Linked DNA regions of Homo sapiens: region 2 is linked to region 1. A link means that fine-mapping ties the variant in region 1 to the expression of a gene that starts in the linked region. Tissue or cell type: nasal epithelium. Region 1 holds a variant in brackets; the other region holds the start of a gene. All regions are shown on one strand. Distances are from middle to middle.

Region 1 (2,689 bases):
TGATATGCATTAAAACAAAAAATCTCAACAAACCAAGCAAGTTTCTTGCAGAACCTAAGGACTTCTATATTTCATTAAGAAAATGTATTGTAAAGGTAAAAAAGCAAATGATAGAACAGAAACAGCGCAATATTCTGAATTGAAGAAACAGTGCAATATTCTGAATTACAGTGGTCTTTAAGTAAATAATAAGCATTAATATTCTCTTCATAAAGACGAGTTTACTAATTTAGTATCATAAAAACATTTTTTTTCAAAAGCCATGTCCAAGTGGGCACCAGTTAAAATAGGACAGGGGTGATTGTTACACTTTCAATTTGTGGAACATTTTTCTTCCTTAAACATTCCAGAGCTTTTATGCAAACATAATTATTAAAGTGCATATGTCATTGGTTCTGAACTTAATATCTGAATTTTCTGTGAGAAAAACAAGGAATTCTTTTCATTTGGATCCTGACTCAGCACTTACATCCCATTTACTTTTAGTCACTGTGTTTCTGCTTACAGTATGTGAAATACTCTCACCAGAACAAAGGTCCCAGCGTCAATAAGTCAAACCGCAGACTCTGACAGCTGAGTGAATAGCAGAGGCCAGAGTCCACTTGAAGTGTTCACACTCTCAGAGGCCAAGTTTAGATCTTATCTGCCTGAGATTCCTTTTAACACTGATTTGTCATAGCAGGTAGCTGACAGCATCTACTCCTGAAGACCGGAAACATGGCTTGTACCATCCAAAAGGCAGAAGCACTTGACGGGGCTCATTTGATGCAGATCCTCTGGTATGATGAGGAAGAGTCTCTCTACCCAGCTGTATGGTTGAGAGACAACTGTCCGTGCTCTGATTGCTACCTGGATTCTGCAAAAGCACGGAAACTTCTAGTGGAAGCTCTTGATGTGAACATTGGAATTAAAGGCTTGATATTTGACAGAAAAAAGGTAATTATCTCTAAATTATGTCTCCCTTCTTTCTCAAGTTCAATAATGGGGCTAGTCAACAATAATTTAGATAACTCTTTTTTATTTGGTCACGCATATATAACCGCATATGAACCCACGTTTGTATAGTACTTGGTGCGAATTAAGTATATTCAGTAAATGGAAGCTTCAGCTATTATTATTACTATTATCATTACTACTACTATTTTTAATAAAATTTGCAGTGTTACTTGTCTTTTAGTCAAATTAGTATGTAGAGATACAAGGCTTGTTCTGGGATTCCCAAAAGCACAGCTCTCAAAACTACAAACCAGAGGCAGCCACCATTCCATGTTTCTCTCTTCCAAATTTACTAGGATTCTTATTATGCTCTTGTCCACATCCCGACTTGAGGACTTTACTCCCAGATTTCACTGCTTGCTAGCTAGATAGAAATGTTGTTTACTCT[T/C]ACATTTCTCACCTGAAAAAAATGAGAATAATAGTAGTACCTTCCCCCTAGAGTTGTAAAGATTAAATGTGTTATGTCTATAGTACTTGTTATGGATACTCAAAATAGTGTTATTTTTATTATTGCTGTTGTACTCCTTATCATCACTACTATTACTTACTTTTATTTATTTATTTTTGAGATGGAATCTTGCTCTGTTGCCCAGGCTGGAATGCAGTGGGGCGATCTCAGCTCACTGCAACTTCCGCCTCCCGGGTTCAAGCAATTCTCCTGCCTCAGCCTCCCAAGTAGCTGGAATTACAGGTATGGGCCACCATGCCCGGCTAATTTTTGTATTTTTAGTAAAGACGGGGTTTCACCATGTTAACCAGGCTGGTCTCAAACTCCTGACCTTGTGATCTGCCTGCCTCGGCCTCCCAAAGTGCTGGGATTACAGGCATAAGCCACCACACCCAGCTGCACCATTACTATTTCTAATACTCTTGGCAGGAATCTTAATTGACAACTAGCTTCAGTTATCACAGAAAGTTTGGGGATCCCAGGTTTAGAGGATGTAGGTCAAGAACTGTAGATCTATCCATGCTCTATTTCTTGAGTGCTATTTAAGGGCCTCAGACCTCAGATGTATTACTTTGGCTTCCTTGTTTTCCAAAAGCGTATGCTTAATCTCTGTCTTAAAAATTAAGCTGGCCAGGCATGGTGGCTCACGCCTGTAATCCCAGCACTTTGGGAGGCTGAGGCGGGCGCATCACAAGGTCAGGAGATGGAGACTGTCTTAGCCAACATGGTGAAACCCCGTCTCAACTAAAATACAAAAAATTAGCCAGGCGTGGTGTCGCGTGCCTGTAATCCCAGCTACTTGGGAGGCTGAGGCAGGGGAATCGCTGGAACCCGGGAGGCAGAGGTTGCAGTGAGCCGAGATTGCGCCACTGCACTCCAGCCTGGCAACAGAGGAAGACTCCGACTTAAAAAAAAAAAAAAAAAAAAATTAAGCAAAGCATAATTGGATTCCCTGATTATCTTAAACAGCATTCAAAAACAGAGCAATAGTGGAGAACGGAAATAAAATCCACATAGGTGAAATTTGCTTTTTGTGTTATAAGGTGTACATCACATGGCCCGATGAGCATTACAGTGAATTCCAGGCTGATTGGCTGAAGAAAAGATGCTTTTCCAAGCAGGCCAGAGCAAAGCTCCAAAGAGAATTGTTTTTTCCAGGTAACTTTGCCAAAGTCTTCAATGTCTTTTTAAACCCTTACAGTAAAGGATTTTTATTAAGAAATTTGCTCACAGAAAATTCAAACC
Region 2 (2,689 bases), 330 kb before region 1:
CACTGCCTCATTTCCCTCACATTAAATAATTCCCATATTTGTATTATTTAGCAATTCCTTTCGTTAAAATGTTTTGTACTTTTCAAAAATGTTTCCATTTCCTCATTAAAAATTAGTCTTATTATAATTTGTATTAAAATGCCCTCTACTCTCTGACGGAAAGGCCACTAAGTAGAGATACAGAAAAAATTAGGTTCTCAGGTCACTTTACTATTCAAAAATCTTAACTAAGTCATTTATCTGTATCTCAGTTTTCTTAGCTGGAAAATTGCCGTACTCATGAGAAATGTTCTGTTTGCTTTTCAGAATGATGACGTTCACAATAATAAAAAATAACATCAGCCCTCTTTATTGCAAACCTCCTACAAATGAGGCCATACATTAAGTGCTCACATAGAGGTTCTCATTTGATCATTAAAATAGCCCTGTGGGATTGTCATCATTATTTTCCTTCTACAGATGGGAAAATAGATATGTCTGTCTCCAAAGCTTAGGCTTTTTACAAAAACATTTTAATGTCTTTCTCATAATGTGTAATTATCCTGAAAATCAGTGAGTGTTCTTCAACTACCAGGTGCTATCATCAAGAGGATGAGAAAAAAAAATTAGAGAAGAATGGAGAAATCATCTTACCTCATAAGTGCTGGTGATACCAGATCTGTAGAACACAGGGAGAAAGAGCTCTGATGTTAAGAGGATGACAAATAGGTAAGCAATGAAGAAGACTAGGAAGGATGCCCCAAAGCGGTAGACTTCAGAAGGGGTCCCCAGGACCGTGACAGCTGACATGAAGCTGGCTGTCAGAGACAAGCCGACAGGGCCAAAGCTCATTTGCCTTCCCCCAACCAGGAACTCTCGGGAAGTTGCCTTTTTTCTCTCCTTAATGGCAAAGAACACCCCAATTCCAGAGGAAATGAAAAAGAGGGCTGCAAATACAACATAATCCCAAACTGCAAAGTTCTTCACCTCCATATTGGAAAGTATGACACCAGAGAGTTTCTTTCAACGAGGTCTCAGGAAGAAGATGTTTCCAAAAGCAAAGTTCAGTACAGTGGATGCTTTGCTGAGAGGAGAGACTGTGATTCCCTGAAGAAAATGATTACCAGAGGCACTCGTGTGAATCTTCAGACACCAACGTGTACTTAGTGAAGATCTCAAAAGTTGACTTCAAAGAAGAATCTGGTGGTGGTATTGGCACCAAGAGATGAGAATTTGAAATCTGACCCTAGCTAAGAGCTGTCTGCTCCTCTCCTAAAGCATATGCCACAGAGAAGGAATTCAGATGTGTTCTGAAATTAATAACCACTGGGGGTGGAATGGACTGGCCAGATAACATGCTGTTTTATCTCTTAGATTTTTTTTAACTTAAGGTTAAACATTTCTGGGAAACATAGAATTGATAACAATTTACCACCTCAGCATTTTTAATTCGTGAGATGGAATCTGTAAAATGCAAACACAATCCTCAGCAGTGTCTTCCTCTTGAAGAAGGGAGAGTGAAGGCTGTGTGCCTGCAATTGTCTGAGGCAGTGGATGTGGAGAGAAAGAAGCAAAGGACTAGGAATTCAGAGACCTTTGCTCGAGTCCTGGCTCAACCACGAGAAAGCCATGAAACATTTCATAAATCATTTAACATTTCTGAACTTCACCTGGAACACAGGGATAATAAGACCTTACAAGGTCTTTAAAGACTTAAGTCTTAAACTTCCTGACTCTCTTTGTCTTGATCTGTAAAATGAAAGGTAATAATATGTACCCCATTGGCTATTATCTGTGCTTACAGCAGAGCACTCTGGAACATCATAGCTTTTCTTTCTTTATTCTAGGACCTAGAAAAATCAATTTGCCATTAATTAATAAATTATTTATAGCCTTCAACTTTATCTTGTCTTTCTCTTATTTTCACCAGGTTACTATCACTGTACCCACAGGCTAAGTTAGAATTAGGACCAGGACAAATTAGAGAAGGAAGGTAACAATCCAGTTATAAATTCCTGTTTCTGCTCTCTTTAGACTCTGTCAATTGTTCCAAAGTACCTCTAGTGCAATTTCTAATTTTGTTCATGCTTCTCCTCCTTCTTCAGTGGCCTTCTCCATCCCCACCTCTACAAAGCTTGTGTATTCTACAAGATCTAGTATGAGTTTTCTCTACTCTGTGAAGCTTTTCTGCCTCTCCACGTCAACTCCTGTAGAACGTAGCCTCCCTAGTACTCATTTTGTACTCAGCCATCATCTTGCCTATTTTAGGGAATCTCTATGTAACCGGCTACAGGAGTCTGTCAGCTGTTCAAATGACATTTCCTTGAAGACAGAAGCAAAGCTCTAGTCCATATACCCAATACATTATAGCCATTGTAGAAAATAAAAAAAATAATTTTTAGAAAGGAGAAAACTAAAATTATCCATAATGCCCAAAGACAGAAACATTTCCAGCCAAACAATAAAACAAAAAACGCTCTAATTTTGCTTTTCACATCTGGATAACTGAATAAATCTTTGCTTCATGAATTTGAATTAGACCAAAGAAAGGTTTAATTAGATAGCTAAAGTATGCTTTTAGTTACCAATAAAAATATGAAGACTCTCCCAAGAGCTGTCTGTGTCCTCTGTTTAAATTCCTCCACTAGATTTGGAGATTTGATATGATAAATGTTACTGCAAATCTTGGTCTTTAATATATTTACCTTAA

What was found. PIP is the estimated chance that this variant, and not a neighbour inherited with it, causes the effect.
Region 2: SLC5A12 starts here. The variant in region 1 is fine-mapped to the expression of SLC5A12 in nasal epithelium (TOPMed, PIP 0.90).

What each region holds. Positions count from the first base shown.
Region 1 is chr11:27,054,714-27,057,402 of GRCh38, forward strand. BBOX1 (gamma-butyrobetaine hydroxylase 1) reads left to right here. Exons shown (of 9, transcript NM_003986.3): 3 at 680-936; 4 at 2,488-2,602. The coding sequence starts at 718. All of the region lies in intron 3 of BBOX1-AS1 (BBOX1 antisense RNA 1), which reads right to left. Among named protein-coding and RNA genes, the nearest start is that of BBOX1, 15 kb to the left of the region's middle. The variant T/C (reference allele first, on the strand shown) is at 1,385.
Region 2 is chr11:26,720,743-26,723,431 of GRCh38, forward strand. SLC5A12 (solute carrier family 5 member 12) reads right to left here and starts at 1,318. Exons shown (of 15, transcript NM_178498.4): 1 at 634-1,318. The coding sequence starts at 972.